Linked DNA regions of Homo sapiens: region 2 is linked to region 1. Evidence: fine-mapped expression QTL. Tissue or cell type: skeletal muscle. Region 1 holds a variant in brackets; the other region holds the start of a gene. All regions are shown on one strand. Distances are from middle to middle.

What was found. PIP is the estimated chance that this variant, and not a neighbour inherited with it, causes the effect.
Region 2: it holds the start of NDUFB11, and the variant in region 1 is fine-mapped to the expression of NDUFB11 in skeletal muscle (GTEx, PIP above 0.99).

Annotation. Positions count from the first base shown.
Region 1 is chrX:47,173,607-47,181,862 of GRCh38, forward strand. RBM10 (RNA binding motif protein 10) reads left to right here. Exons shown (of 24, transcript NM_005676.5): 6 at 1,413-1,486; 7 at 2,894-2,980; 8 at 5,497-5,557; 9 at 5,713-5,889; 10 at 6,274-6,434; 11 at 6,606-6,703; 12 at 6,813-6,900; 13 at 7,609-7,795; 14 at 7,901-8,040; 15 at 8,143-8,256. Among named protein-coding and RNA genes, the nearest start is that of UBA1, 16 kb to the right of the region's middle. RefSeq lists an enhancer at 4,918-6,117. The variant C/G (reference allele first, on the strand shown) is at 3,377.
Region 2 is chrX:47,141,626-47,149,625 of GRCh38, forward strand. It overlaps NDUFB11 (NADH:ubiquinone oxidoreductase subunit B11), which reads right to left and starts at 3,077. Exons shown (of 3, transcript NM_001135998.3): 1 at 2,848-3,077; 2 at 989-1,119; 3 at 591-815. The coding sequence starts at 3,054. The coding sequence ends at 692. RBM10 (RNA binding motif protein 10) reads left to right here and starts at 3,596. Exons shown (of 24, transcript NM_005676.5): 1 at 3,596-3,860; 2 at 5,732-5,873. The coding sequence starts at 5,857. RefSeq lists an enhancer at 3,620-3,889.

The DNA.
Region 1 (8,256 bases):
CTCTGACGTGGTGGTCCCACATGTGTGTCCCAAGGGGGAAGCAGGGGATGGCTCTTATCCAAGGACACATCCCAAGGAACAGCCAGGACTTCCTGGCCTCGCCTGTTCCCTCCCTCCCTCCCTCTTGCAGGCTGCTTGGAGCTGGCCTGAGGTTAGCAGGGTGGTGGTGGGGGGAGTTGTCTCTACAGGACCTCTGCCCAGGCTCCCCAAGGCAGGCACAGTGGGGCCTCACTCTGCCTGGGCTTCTCTCTCCATCTCTCAGTCTCTCCTCCCCACACCTCCATCTCTCTCTCTCTCTCTCTCTCTCTCTCTCTCTCTCTCTCTCTCTTTCTCCCTCTCTCTCTTTCTCTCTCTCTGCCCCCCCCAACTATATTATTCATTCCATCCTCCTATGCATCCTAACGGTTATTCTTTTGAACATTAAGCATGCCCCCCCAAGCCCCTCTCATCCAAGCCCTCCCCATGTATCTGCCTCTAAAGGACATGCTATCCTGAGGCCTCAACCCTGAATCCCTTTCCCAAGCCTGGAATCTTGGTTGCATGTAGGTCTTGCTCTGCATCACCCCAACTACACCACACACGGACAGCTTCTGGGTCTCTCTCTCCACAAGGAGGTGTTCCAGGTGCGGCCTTCTCAATGGCCCTGGGCGCTTCTCCCAGGCACCCATTGATTCTTACCTCTAAGGTCCTCCTGGCCAATCCTGGCCACCATTCTCCTTTTGTCCAGGGGAACCTGGACTGTTTGTGGCTGTAGTCTCCACCCTGTGGCCCTGAGGTGGCTCCCTAGCGAGGCCCGCCTCCCCTGCGCTGCGGTGAGGCTGAGATGAGGTCGTGTCTTTAACCGCCCCTGGTTTCCAATGGGCCAAGAGCCTTCCTAGCCTCGCAGAGCAGCCTGGCCCAGCTTCTCTTTTGCTCCTGTGATTCAACACCTGTTACAGGACCCCTCCTGGGCACCCCTGGCCTTGAGCTGGGCCCGCCCTGGAGTTACGTATTGTGGCTTGTGTGGAGCCAGCAGCCTGCCCACCATCCCCTCCCTCCTTCTTTGGAGGCAGATCTCTCGTATTCTTTCCCTCCCAGCTGCTTCTCTCCGTCTCTGTCACCCCAGGCTGGCTGGGCAGGTCTGCCCGAGCCCCATCTCTCTCTTCCCAGTTGGTGTGTGTGTCTCTCCCCCTACCGACCTCTGGCCTCTGTTTTTCTCCCTCCACCTTCCCTGCCCCACCTGGCCATCTACCTTGCCCCCCACGCCCGCTAGTCTTTCTCTCTCTGATTGCCTCTTTCTCTTTCTTCCTTTTTCCTCTTCCCCTTTCCCTCTCTGCCCCCCGTCCTCTCCCCTCGGGTCCCGCCCCCGGGAACGCCGTGTGTCCAAAGCTGTTGACTAACCCACTGCGTCTGTATCTGAATGCTGTCTCCAGGTCAGAGCCGGGGCTTCGCCTTCGTCGAGTTTAGTCACTTGCAGGACGCTACACGATGGATGGAAGCCAATCAGGTTGCTTTGCCGCACTTGAACCCCCCCCCAAACAAATACTACTTTGTAATCGAGCGCTCCCCATCGCCTGATTCTTATGGACACAGTTCCCTGCCCTGTGGCCCTGTGTCCCATCCCCCCGCCCCCTCTCTCCCCTTCCTGACCCTCACTATCTCCTCTTCCCATCTCTCGCTACCCCACTGGGCTTCTCATCCAGAGCCCACACTCACCACTGGCCCCTTCCTACCACCAGGCACTAGTGCTGCCCCTTCACCTCTCCCAGCTGAGCGTTCAGAGAAAGAGCTGCCAGGGTGGGTTCTTTCACCTAGCTTCCCACTCCCCCGGGGCTGGTGGGGGGGGCACCCCTCTCTGGGGTTAGCCAGAGCCAGGACCTCATTCCACCCTCAGGACCACTGGAAGTCCTGCCAGTGAGGAGCTTAGCTATTGGCACAGTCACTAGCAAGACTCATTTTGTCAGCCCCATCCCTGCATGTGAATTTGGCCCTTTGATTTTCATGCAAGGGGACAGCACTGCTCTGTTGATCTCAAGTTCCCGTCGAGTATGATAGTTTTATCGACACCCTGGCCTCACTTCGCCGCCCCTACCCTTCCTATCACATCTCCACACTCGCAGGAGGCACCACCTCAGGCAGCTCTGTCTTCTCGGCAAGGACCTGTGCACAGTCAGCCCTGGGGGGAGCCTGTCCCCCAAGCCTGGCACGGGATCCCAACTCAGCAGCTTTGGGACCTCCGAGACCCAAAGATCTGCCTGGTCACCCACCCCTGCCCAGATCCCTGGTGTAGGGCACTGGAGAGCAGTTTCAGGGGAGGAAGGGGCAGAGGTGGTAGAATGGGGGATCCCGGCAGAGGCAGCCCTGGGGCCGTCTCCTCGGGGTTGGTAGGCTAGTGCCATGGGCCCAGGACCCAGCCATCCATGGGAAGACGGCCTCATGGCAGAAACTTCCATCTGTTCGAAATGGCTCTTTCTTTTTCCCCTTCTCCAGCACTAGCGCACCTGCGCTCTCTTTCTCTTTTTCTCCCCTCTCCCTCCCCCTCCCTGTCTCCCCTCACCCCCCAAGTGTAGCCTGTGTAGTCCTGGCCCTGGGTGTGGCCTGGCAGTGTCAGGGCCGAGTGGGGGTTTCTCCCCACTGTCCGGCAAGCGTCGGTCAGCCGAACACTGTGTGCCTGGTGGTGTGTGTTCACATGTGTGCGTGCGTGTGCCCGGCAGAGCAGCAAACAGCTGCGCCCGAGAGCTGTGGCGCTTTCCCTCCCTACCTCCCTTCTTCCCTCCATCCGCTCTCCGACCTCCCTCCGTTCCCTGTCCCTCATCCATCCAGCTGAAGGGCTCGCTCACTCTCTTCTCCTATGCTGAAACGGTGCGTGGGGCACTGCTGCCTGGACCTCACTGTGCTCTGCTTTTTCCCGCAGCACTCCCTCAACATCCTGGGCCAGAAGGTGTCGATGCACTACAGTGACCCCAAGCCCAAGATCAATGAGGACTGGCTGTGCAATAAGGTACAGGGGCGGTGGGCAGCAGTTGTCATGGACAGAGACAGCAACAGCAGTGGCGGCGATCTCTCCCTTCCTCTCCCGCTCTTTCTCCCTCCATCTCTCCCCCTCCCCCAATCTCTCCTCTCCCTCTGTCTCTCTCTCTCTCTCTCTCTCTCTCTCTCATTCTCTATCCCTTGCTAGCTCAGCTTGAGTAGTCACCATTCCTAGCCAGCCATATACAAATGTGTAGTGAGCGTTCACTTGGTGCAGGCTCTGTCCTCCTAAAATGCAGTCTTGCCTGGAGTTCCAGTAGACTTTAAGGAAATATATACGTGGATGATGAATTAGTGACAGTGTAGACTTGAAGTGGTGGTGTGGAGAATGTGGGCTTCAGAGCCAGACTGGCTGAAATGAGACTAT[C/G]CCAGATCGGCCTTGATTTTGGCCAAGGTGCTTAGCCTCTCTTTGCCTCACTTTCCCCATCTCTAAAATGTGAATATTAATGACACCTCTCCCAAAAGGTGGTTGGGAGGATTCAGCTGTGTTAATGAGAGAGTAACACTCAGAACAGTGCCTGGCCCACATTTAACACAGTCGAATTGTTAACTGTAATCATGAAAGAAAAGCACAGAGCGTTCTGAGAGCCCATAGCAGGTAGCTCAAGCCTGAAGGCCACTCTGACCAGGCCAAGTCAAACCTGAAACTGGAGGCTGTGGTTTTGTAGTCACCTCTGTCTTCCCTGAGGGGAAGCTGAGGCTCAGAGAGGTGGAACCATGGGTGAACCTTTAGCTGTGCCCTGTGCCTTGCTCCTGATCACAGGGACTTGGATGCCACAGTGGCTTCAGGTCTGCCCTGGGGCCAGCATTGTGATTCCACAGTTTGTAGAGGCCCCAACCCTCTCCCCAGGAAGTACTCTGCCTAGTCAGGGAGAGTGGTGCATCTGTTTTAAAAAAAAAAGTCCCATCAGAGGATTGGTGCTTAACATTTCTGGAGAGATAAAGACAAAGTGACAGTGGAACTCCTTCCTGTGTTTCCAGATAGCCTCAAAACCAGGGAATTCTCTTTTTTTTTTTTTTGAGACAGGATCTGGCTCTGTCGCCCAGGCTGGAGTGCAGCAATCTGGGCTCACTGCAACCTCTGTCTCCAGCGCTCAAGCCATCAGCCTCCAGAGTAGCTGGGACCACAGGCGCATGCCACCACACCCACTAATTTTTGCCTTTTTATTTTTATTTTTTTTGGTAGAGACAGGGTTTCGTCATGTTTGCCAGGCTGGTCTTGAACTCCTGAGCTCAAGCAGTCCTCACGCCTCAGCCTCCCAAAGTGCTGGGATTACAGGCGTGAGCCACCACGCCCAGCCCAAAACCAGGGAATTCTCTTGAACTCCTTCCCCTCCCCTGCATCCTGTTGGCCACCAGGTCCTGTCACTTCCATCACAGAAACGCCACCTTCCCTCCCTCGCCATTCCCGCTGCTCATGCCAATCGTCACGCTCTCACCCACTCACTGTGGAGCCCTCTCTGGTATGCTGGCCTCTTGTCCTCTTTCTCCCACGCCCTCACCTGGAACATTCCTCAAAACCACCTCTGACTACCCACGCCTCTCCTCCTCTGCTTAACCAGCCCCAGCTCAGCTTAAGCATAAGATCCTCCATTACCTAACTGGCTTCCTTCCCCGGCCTTGGCTTTTGCTTCTCCCCTTACTCTCCCACACCAGTTTCGGAAAGTCCATTGTTCCCTCCGATAACAATCCCTCCCCAGCAAGGCTTAACAAAATGAAACTTCTGGGCATCCCAGGTCAAACCTCCCTGCTTCTGTGCAGGGACTGTCCCTGCCGAGTAAATGGCACCCCACCCCCAGCCCATTTCCCTCCCCGAGCCCCTGCTGGATGGTCCATGCAGACCGACCTGCCCCTCTTCATGCTGCATCTGCCCCTGTGCTATTAGGCCATGAGGGCAGAGACCATGTTCTGGCCATGTGCAGCAGGGCCTGGCCCAGGAGTGGTGCTTAGTACCTGAGTCTGGAACAGAGATGGAGTGTGGTAGAAGCTGGGTCTCCAGATGCTGGAACATTCAAGGAAAATTTCTCAAGCGTAGCAGGATCCAACCCAGTCCTAGAGCTAAGAGGAGGGGTGCGGGTCTGGCTACTGACTTCTAGGGCTGAAACACTGAAAGGTTTCTGAATAGAGGAGCAAGTTTCAGGGAGAGGAACCTAATAAAGGGATTGAATACCTGAGGCGGGGAACAGTCCTGGGAGTTGGTGGCCTTAAGAAGGCAGAGGAAGGAGAGGAGGGAGTTGTTGTACCAAATGGGGGAGTTGTTTATTCCTGAGCTGAGTGGGTTGGCACAGAGGACAAATGAGAGTCTGGAAAGGGAAGATGCACAGTACTGAGAACAACATCAGAAGGTTCAGAAGGCACCTGCCACCATTGCCTAGGGGCTTTCCTTCCTGGGGCACTGCGGGGTCCCTGGGAGATCTCTTCATCCAAGTTTGGAGGGTGCAGTGGGAAATCCCTGCTCCCTCTGACGGCCTGGCCTGTGCCTCACAGTGTGGCGTCCAGAACTTCAAACGCCGAGAGAAGTGCTTCAAATGTGGCGTGCCCAAGTCAGGTGAGGCCCACCTACCTCTCGTGCTCTCCAGGGCGGAGCGGTTGGGGAGAAGGGAAGGGTGAGGGGTCTGTGCTCAGGGCTTGGTATAGGGAGGAGGGTGACCAGTCGTGGAGCCTTCCCCTTATCACCAGCCTGTCTCCCACTGCCCCTGACAGAGGCAGAGCAGAAGCTGCCCCTCGGCACGAGGCTGGATCAGCAGACACTGCCACTGGGTGGCCGGGAGCTGAGCCAGGGCCTGCTTCCCCTGCCGCAGCCCTACCAGGCCCAGGGAGTCCTGGCCTCCCAAGCCCTGTCACAGGGCTCGGAGCCAAGCTCAGAGAACGCCAATGACAGTGAGTCAGTTGTTCCTTCTTCCTCTGTGCCCTAGGGTGTCGGGCTGGGCTCACCAAGACCAGAGAAATGGCAGTGAGCAGGACCTCATCCTCATGGAATCTCCACTTGGTGCGGGGATAGACATTTGATGTAGGGAGAACAGGGGGAGTGGCAACATCCCACCTGACTTTGGGGGTGTGTCGGGAAGGTTCTCAGCAGACAGGCAGCCAGGCTGGCACCTGGACCGCCAAGCAGAGTTGATCCTGGAGGAAGCAGTGAGGGAAGCGGCAGTTGCAAAGGCACGGAGTGAGTGGGGGCAGAGGAAAGGGAGCAGTGGGGGCATTGAAGGGCAGGGCTGGCAAGAGTGCCAGGGGTGTCCTCTAACATTGGGCCCCTTCCCACAGCCATCATTTTGCGCAACCTGAACCCACACAGCACCATGGATTCCATCCTGGGGGCCCTGGCACCCTACGCGGTGCTGTCCTCCTCCAACGTGCGCGTCATAAAGGACAAGCAGACCCAACTGAACCGCGGCTTTGCCTTCATCCAGCTCTCCACCATCGTGGTGAGGGCGGCACAGTTGGGGGCCGGGCAGCCAGGGTCCCGGCCCCCGGGGTGGAGACGAGGGTCCTTTTCCCCAGCCTCCCACCGCGGCTGCCAGCCTGGAAATCGGGCAATGGAGCCGGGGGCCTCCCCGGGCCTGACCCTTCTGTCCCTGCCTCCCCTCCTCCCACAGGAGGCAGCCCAGCTGCTGCAGATCCTGCAGGCCCTGCACCCACCACTCACTATCGACGGCAAGACCATCAATGTTGAGTTTGCCAAGGGTTCTAAGAGGTCAGGGCCCCACCTGTGTGCCTTCCCACCCTTCCCCTCCCCACCCTCCCACTCCCCCCTACCGCTTGGGGCCTCCTATCTCACTCCCAGTCTCTAACATCCTCCTCAGGGACATGGCCTCCAATGAAGGCAGTCGCATCAGTGCTGCCTCTGTGGCCAGCACTGCCATTGCTGCGGCCCAGTGGGCCATCTCACAGGTACTCAGACCCCTTGTGCCTCCCAGCGTCCTGAGACCTGGGCTTTCTCAACCCTCCTGCACCCTCTCTGAAGCAGGAAGGCTGGCTTGCTATCCATGGATGCAAAACCCTCTCCCAGTAGCTGGCATGGCTATTCTACCTTGCTCCTGGCTCTCTAGACCCCCTGGGACATTCCCCTTCATCATCACCGCAGCTTTCTTCCCAATTGCCTCCCATGCGCTCATGTACGACGCCATTGTGCCTGGCATTCTGTGCTGTTTGGTGGGGTTTTTATTGTCCTGAATAGGTATGATATACACATATCCTTATATGTAATATATACATATATGATATACACGTATCATATGTTCCTGAATAAAAATAACGTATAAGTGGTTGAGAGAAAATTGGGAGAAGAGAATAAAGAAGTAAGAAGATGGTGTCTTCCTTGGCCTGACACCCAACACACACGCCACACACAGCAGAATCAGCAGAATCAGCCCTGGAACATTTTGGCGTTCATCTGTTTTTCTGTCTTGTGTTTGCCACTGGCCTATTTGTTCTCTTGTGGCCAGGCAACCCTCGCTTTCCACTTGTCTTAAGGCTGCATGCTTTGTCTGTCAGGTAGAAATACTAGCCCCACGTGTGGGACAGATGCTTCTAGCAGGTTCCCCACCCCCCACCCCCACACCTTCCTGTTCTAATGAACCCCTCCCACCTGCCCTTCAGGCCTCCCAAGGTGGGGAGGGTACCTGGGCCACCTCCGAGGAGCCGCCGGTCGACTACAGCTACTACCAACAGGATGAGGGCTATGGCAACAGCCAGGGCACAGAGTCTTCCCTCTATGCCCATGGCTACCTCAAGGGCACCAAGGGCCCTGGCATCACTGGAACCAAAGGGGATCCCACTGGAGCAGGTGAGCCCCAGCATCTCTCTCTGCAGCTGTGGTGGGGGCCAGCAGGCATAAAGTCCCCGGCCCCATTATTCACAGGCATTGTCCCTGCCCTGTCCCTCCTTACAGGTCCCGAGGCCTCCCTAGAGCCTGGGGCCGACTCTGTGTCGATGCAGGCTTTCTCTCGCGCCCAGCCTGGTGCTGCTCCTGGCATCTACCAACAATCAGCCGAGGCGAGCAGTAGCCAGGGCACTGCTGCCAACAGCCAGGTGAGTGAGCCCTGTGGGTATGTATCCCGGGGAGGCAGGCAGGCGGCAGGGGTGGCATGGGCAGACACTGAGCCCTGTTCTCCTGTCTGGCCCCATGACCAGTCGTATACCATCATGTCACCCGCTGTGCTCAAATCTGAGCTCCAGAGCCCTACCCATCCTAGTTCTGCTCTCCCACCGGCTACCAGCCCCACTGCCCAGGAATCCTACAGCCAG
Region 2 (8,000 bases), 32 kb before region 1:
GGTCAGGAGATTGAGACCATCCTGGCCAACATGGTGAAACCCTGTCTCCACTAAAAATACAAAAATTAGCCAGGTATGGTGGCGGGCACCTGTAGTCCCAGCTACTCTGGAGGCTGAGGCAGGAGAATCGCTTGAACCCGGGAGGTGGAGATTGCAGTGAGCAGAGATTGTGCCACTGCACTCTAGCCTGGGTGACAGAGCAAGGCTCCATCTCAAAAAAAAAAAAAAAAAAAAAGTCAAGGCTGTTCTGCTGGAGAGAGGCCATATGGAAGAGGACTGAAGTGCCAGACATGTGAGTGAAGAAGCCATCTTAGATACCCAGCCCAGTTGAGCCTTCAGATGACTCCAGTCCCAGCCACCATCTAACTACAACTACCTGAGACCCCTAGAAGAGCCACCTTACTGAGCCCAGTCAACCCACAGGGCCATGAAAGAGAAGACTGAATTGTGGTTTTAAGCCACTAAGTTTTTAGGTGTTTGCTACACAGCAATATACAGCCAGAACACCCAGGGAAGGTTGCAGCAGCCCTTTTAAAGCTTTTGACACCCCCATCCCATATCCCCTTCACAACACAATCAACACTAGCGAGTCAGACTTTCAGCCCCTTTAATTAGGTGCTCTGAGAAGAGGTCAGAATGGCAGGCAGGGGGTGGGGAAGGCGGTGCTTCTTGAGCCCCACTTAGCAACTGGTCACTCATCCTCTGGCAGCTGGATCTTGCTGGGGTCGAAGCAGTTGGATTCCATGATGGGAAGGCCATTGGCCTCTCGGTATTTCACAAGCCTCTCAGCTTCGCGGCGGGACCACTCTTTCATCCTGGTAGTGCAAATAGCAGGGGTAGACGTGAGGGAGCCTCAACTGATACCAATCCCTCATCTCAGCTCCCCATTCCCAATGGTGCAGGAACAAAACTCCTGGCAGAATCCCCTTCAACCTCCATCCCTGCCTCTGCCTCTTACCCATCCCACGCTCTTGGACACCCTGTGCACCTGTAGTCAGGCAGATAGGCCACAAAGGTGCTGCCAAGGACCAGGATGATGGAGACGCCAAAGAAGAAGACAAGTCGCATGTTCCAGACGTCCAAAACGGGGTCCTTGTCATAACCATGGGAGTCTGGGTTCTGTGGAGAAATAGAGGTCAATGAGGGCTTCCTGCTGCTCCACAAAGCCTTATTCTGGCCCTGCATAACTTGGTCTCCATGTGCCCCTCTCACTAAATTCCTCTGTTTCCATTCTTGGGATATGTCAAGCTCCTTCCCACTGCAGGGCCACTGCACTTGCTGCTCTCTCTGCCTGGAAAGCCTTTCTTCCAGCTCTAGTCATGGCTGGATCTGTCTCCTCATTCAAGGTTTTAGATTCATCACCACTTCCTTCAGGAGGCACTCCCTAGTTACCTTGTCTTTCAAAGTTGAAGCATAGGAAACTGCTATTTTTATAGGTCACAAATGGTTGAATACTGGCAATTTCTTATAGCTCAAGCTAATGAAATAGCCCCCTACACCCAAGTCATTCTCTATCCACTTATCTTGCTTAACTTTGTCTTCACATCCTCTCTTCCTTCTGTCTCTTTCTAGTCTATGTTTACCTAAGTAGCATACTTTCCCCATTCTCTGTATATCATACATTCTCATGTTATATTATCTATTATACTACTTTGTATTATTGTTTTCTAATATTTTACTGTTTATTTTCTGTCTTCCCCACTATCATGTAAGCTCTATGAGAGCATGGGCTTTGTCTGATTTCCACACTGCTGTATCCCCAGGGCCCTGAACTGAGCCTGGCATACAGCAGGCCCTCAATACATATTTACAGAATGAACAAGCATCCTATATATCCAAGCCCCTTAACCAGAGGTTAGTATTGATGAAGTACTTATTATGTGCCAGTCTTTTCACATAGAAACACCTCACAATATCTCAGTGAGGTGAAACATGGCAATAATAAACACATTCTAGTGCTGAGTACATACTTACGAAGTGCCAGCTGCTGTTCTGACCATTTTTACTCATTTAATTACATGAGGCAGGTGGGGTGTCCTATTTTTTAGAAGGTGTCCTATTACTGTTCCCATCTTACAGACAAAGAAACTGAGGCACCAAGGGTTTATGCTACCAAGATCACACGGGTGGGTAACCGTCAGTGCTGCCTGATTTCACAGCGTCTGCTATTAATACAGCACAGCAGACCTGGTAGCCCTAAATTCAAATACCAGTTCCACCTCCACCATGTATTCAGTTATGTGAGCTAGGGCAATCCACTTAACATCTCTGTGCCTCAGTTTCCTCATCTGTAGGATGAGTATAATAATAGAGCCCACCTCGAAATGGGGTTTGTTTCGAGTATAAGATGAGCTAATGCATGTCAAGTGTTTAGAACACAGACGGGGCCCGGAGCGGTGGCTCATGCCTGTAATCCCAGCACCTTGGGAGGCCGAGGCGAGAGGATCGCTTGAGCCAGGAGTTCGAGACCAGCCTGGGCAACATAGCGAGATCTCGTCCCTATAAAAAAAAAAAAAAGAATGCAGACGGCAACGAGCAAGTGCCATATCGGTGTTTAGTATTATCGTTGTACTATACTGCTTCTAACGTGTTTTGAGCGCTGTCCACTTGAGGTGTGATTTCTGTCTGCAAAATAAAACCAATCCTGCCTCTGGCCCTGGAACGAAGATACCGAGAGACAAAGGAGGAACACAAGGTAGGCAAAATTCCCAAGTCTTCTAGGCTTTCGCCGGCCGCGCAGTCCTCTACTGCCTAAGAACGTCCTCTACAGCGCCCCATCTGCCGATCCCGGACTGACCCCTTCGGGGTTCCGTCCCCACTACCCCCCCCCCCCCCCCCGCCTCTCACCTTCTCATACAAGTTTTCGTCCTCGGGTTCTGGGTCCTCTTGCCACGGTGTGGTCGGTTCTGGGGGCCGCTTTCCCGCCACAGCGGACGGGGCGACCACAGTCCTGGAGAAGCTAGATTCCCAGCGGACGCGGGCGGCCGGGAGCCCTCGCGTCGCCGCTGCCGCCAAAAGACGGCGAGCGCTCAAACCAAACAGCCCAGCCGCCATGACAGATGGTGCTGCAGGGTCTCAGGGGCGGGGAAAGAAATGCGACTGTGCGCAGCTGCAGTGGGTGCGAGCGCGACAATCATCGCCCCGCCTCCGCCACGCTATATAGGTCCCAGATCTGATTTGGTTTTCCAATGAGGCGGGGCGTTGAGCAACCCTCTTTGCCTCCAGTTGTCGTGGCTTCGTGGGGCCAACCATTTTCGGCCAGGCTGAGAAATTTCTTATTGATGGGTCTGCTCATTTCCTGCATAGGAAGAAATCGGTGACATTTGGGTGGATACAGTTCCCAGCCAATCGCCCCGAGTTCCCTCGCCCACTGGGGAAAGAGGCAGAGCTTCCGCTAGTCTTTCATCTTCAAAGGAAATCAAGCTTCTAAAAAGCGGGCCCTGCCGAATTGGCTAATAGCTACTCCTTTTCTCCACTAGGGGAGCGTTCGCAAGGGGTGTGGGGAGGTGGCCAGCGCTTGCCAATCAGAGGAGGCCAGGGCTGTCCCCTAGCGGGCGGTGACCAATCGCCGGGGCCGGCCAGAGCGCGCTTCCTTAGTAGGTGGATGGTGGTCGGAGCGCCGACTCCCTTCTCGTCGTCGCCATTTTGAGCTGGTGACTGTGGCCGGCTGGGAGTAGGCGGCAGTGAGTTTCCCTGGGAGGGCAGCGCGCTTGGCGCTTCTCCCCTCCCCCCGATCTGCCTCCAGTCTCGGACTTGGTTGTTGCGCGCTCCGGCTCCGGCTGAGCTGGGAGAGTTGGAGGAGGTGGCGGCGGGCAGAGGTGATGTCTGGGAGCCCTTCCTTGACAGCCCGGGCCGAGAAGGTGAGCGTCGACGCTGGTCGTGGGGGCGGAGGTAAGGGGCCCGGGGCGGGGACGTAGAGGAGGCGCGAGGGCGGACTTCGGGTCGGGGGAGATGCGCGGAACGGAGGGGTTGGTGCAATGTCTCAACCCGGGAGGGTTTTTTTTTTTTTGGTTTTTTTTTTTTTTTTTTTTTTTTTTGGTGTGAGCAAAGGCGCGTGCGCGACTGGGACATGGGATGGGTGCATGCGGGTTGGGGGAAGGGAGGGACGGATGGGAGTGGGCTACTGTGGATCACTGTGTCGGCTACATCGAAGTTTATCAGTGGGGAAGCGGTTGTCTGCGACTTTGAGTTTGTGCATAGGAGAGGGGATGCTGCTCTGTGTTACTCTGGTGTTTATCGGTCCATGGGGAAATATTCTGTGGTTCTGGTCTCTATTCCTGGGGGATCGGAGGGGGGATGTGACTCTGGTCTTTACCCTTTGAGGGGGGGCGGTCTGTGACTCTGATCCTTATCCATGGGGCGGGGCTTGGGGGACGACTGTCTTTTGATTGACCCTAACCCACTTATTGGGTGGGAAGGGGCATGCAGGGAATGTGTGTGTGACTCATTGCCCCTTCTTTTGGGGAGTTTGTATCTGTGACACTGACGCTCATCCATGGAAAGGGGACCCACTGTGTAATTGTGGTCCTTACTGTGTGTTCCTTCTGTGATGTGGGCCCGTAGTTATTTGGGGCTCGTGTCTGTGACTGGCCCTTGGCTGTGGTGGATGTTACTGTGTGACTCTGGCCCCTTTGCCAGAGTCTCTTGAAGGTTTTTGTGCTCTCAGACGCCAGTGCCTCTGTGTGATTCTAACTCTTGCCCACCTGGGAGCAGGTAACTCGGGTTCCCTGTGGCTTGAGGAGGAAGAGAAAATTGGAGTGTGTTTGTCTGTGTATGTGTGTGCACGAGCATAGAGCAAAGGTGTGGCAGCAACCTAGTGTTGAGCAGGTGCTATTATTGCCTGGCTTTACCTGCTTCTTATTCAGAGGGTGGGGCCTGAAGATCTGGGATTCATCCTGACCTCTGGCTGGGTCACAGGGTTCTCAGGACTCCCTGAGTTCTCACCACAGCCCTGAGGGTTGGATGAAGTGGCTGCTGCTCCATCCCAATAGAAGAGCACAGTGGTTCAGAACAGCCTCCAAAAGGGCCCCTTTTGCCTCTGGAAACCGGGCTTGAGCCCTGGGGAGGGAACCACCTTAGGACCGGGCTGCACATAAGAGACAGGGCTCAGGGCTGAGCCAGTTGCTGTGTGAGGGCCAAGGCTGTGTTGGCCAGGAGCCCAGGGAGGTGGCAGCTGTCTCGTCGCCAAGTTCGCCCCTTCACACACCCCCCCAAGAGCCTTTCATGGTCTTTTGCTGCCTTATAGGGGACAGCCAGCAGCTTGTTGGGAGGATGAGATGGTCCCTTGGGGCCTGTGGAAGGAGCCTGGGGCCCCCATTGTTGTGAAGTCTTGTCTGATGTGCTGAATCTCAGGCAAGACTTTCAGCCCTGAGAGTCCCCTACCCCCACCCTGGGATGCAGCCCCAGGCTTGAATTTGTCTACCTGTCTTAGGTGGCAAAGCCCTGATCACACTGTGGGTGGCCCCGCCAGGTCTCTCTGCAAGATGCCCCCTGTCTGCTGAAGTCCTTGCTGTTTTCTAGGGCAGTGGGCTCTAGCCTTATGTTTGCGGGGAAAGGGAGGAGCAGGCCAAGTAGGGGCTACCTTCATACTGTGATGCACAGGAGTGCTGGGAGCTGGAAGACAATGTCCCTGGGCTAAGGGGCAGCGGAGAGCCTTGACAATAAGAGTTTCTCAAGGAGGCCCTCTCAGTCCCAACAGTTTTGACCCCTTTCTTCCCTCCACTCTCCCCAGAGTCCCTGCAGGAAGCATCACCCAGGCTGGCAGATCATGGTAGCAGCAGCGGGGGTGGCTGGGAAGTGAAACGGAGCCAGCGGCTGAGGAGGGGCCCCAGCAGCCCCCGAAGGCCCTATCAGGACATGGAGTATGAAAGACGGTGAGTTATCTGTTCTCAGCTTCCCAGACAGCCTAGGCTTGCGTCTATGTGAGAATTGATCCAAGAAGGTGCTAGGATGGGGCTTCTGGGTAGAGGAAACAGCATAGCAGATGATGGGTTTCTTTTCAGCAGACAGGTGTTTGGCACCTGTTGTGAGCCAGGACCTGTGCTAGGCTCTGATAGTGCAGTGATGAATGAGACATGAGATTGCATCCTTCTCAGTACTCAGGGTGTCACAGGGACGCTATGCAGTTAACGGGTGGGAGGTTGAGGTTGGGGCTATAGCCTGGGGTATGAGGGATGGGTGGGAATGGCACCATCAGAGTCAGGATTTGCCCGGGACCACTAGGGGACAAGCCAGGTCAGATAGTGGAAGACTCCAGGGACAGTATGGGCTACAGTTGGCATGATACTTGCTGGGAATGGATACTCTCAGACAGTTATTTCTTCAGCTCTGCTATGAACAAGGAATAGCTGGAACACTGGGTAAAATACAGAAATCCTGAGTAAAATTCAGTGATCCCTCGCCATCCAGGTGATTCCGAGGCAGGTGACCCAGCCATGACACTTGAAGATTGCCTAGAAAAGCAGACCTAACTCTCTCAGAAAGCCTCTATTAAGACTCAAGAGTCAATAGCTTTATAAAAAGAGAAAATAATTTTTAAAATGTTTTACGAAGTGTTTCTTCTACCACCACTCCTTTTAAAAATGTAGAATTGTAATATTTTGTTTTCTGAAAAGTGAGCCCAAATTTGAGATAAGGTCATCACCTAGTGTTATTCAGTCTTGGCTTTCATTAGAAATGTTTTTTGAAAGACATTTGATTTTGGACGGTATTCACTAGAAGTGCTCTGTGGCCATTTCTGAATTTGAGTAGCTGACATACATACTTTGTTCAAACTTTATTACCAAGTAAAACCATTGACTTTTAAAAGCCCTCAAGTGCAGAGGTTTGAGTTCATCATACTTTCCAGTTCAAGGTAGGTTTCTGTCATAGGTCAGCAAAAGGCTTCCTCTTGTCATGTTTATTTTTTCATTTTTATTCCCAATTCCCACCTCTGTGGGCAGCTGCTCTGTCGTGTTTGATATGTATCCTTCTATGATACATATCATAGAAAATGTATCCTTCTATGATACATATCATAGAAAATGTATCCTTCTATGATACATATCATAGAAAATGTATCCTTCTATGATACATATCATAGAAAATGTATCCTTCTATGATACATATCATAGAAAATGTATCCTTCTATGATACATATCATAGAAAATGTATCCTTCTATGATACATATCATAGAAAATGTATCCTTCTATGATACATATCATAGAAAATGTATCCTTCTATGATACATATCATAGAAAATGTATCCTTCTATGATACATATCATAGAAAATGTATCCTTCTATGATACATATCATAGAAAATGTATCCTTCTATGATACATATCATAGAAAATGTATCATAGATTTATCATATAGATCATTTTCATATAAATGTATCATATAGATACATGTATCATATAAATACATACATAAATGTATCATATAGATACATTTTCATAGAAAATGAAAATATGAAGTGTTGTTTTGAGTGACTGTGTTTTCAGTTGACACACATGGCATGGTGCCACAGTCTTCGTTTTGTTTCCTGAACTTTGTATTACTCAGAGTGGGAGGTTTTTTTTGTTTTTTGTTTTTTGTTTTGAGACAGGGTGTCTCTATGTTGCCCAGGCTGGTCTCAAACTCCTGGGCTCAGGCAATTCTCCTCCCTTGGCCTCCCAAAGTGCTGGGATTAAAGGCATGAGCCGCTGTAACTGGCCAACAGTGCTGTTTTTTTTTGTTTGTTTGTTTTGTTTTGTTTTGTTTCTTTGTTTTGAGAAAGAGTTTCACTCTTGTTGCCCAGGCTGGAGTGCAATGGCGCAGTCTTGGCTGACCACAACCTCTGCCTCCCGGTTTCAAGCGATTCTCCTGCCTTAGCCTCCCACATAGCTGGGATTTCAGGCATGTGCCACCACGCCTGGCTAATTTTGTATTTTTAGTAGAGATGGGGTTTCTCCATGCTGGTCAGGCTGGTCTCGAACTCTCGACTTCAGGTGATCCTCCCATCTTGGCCTCCCAAAGTG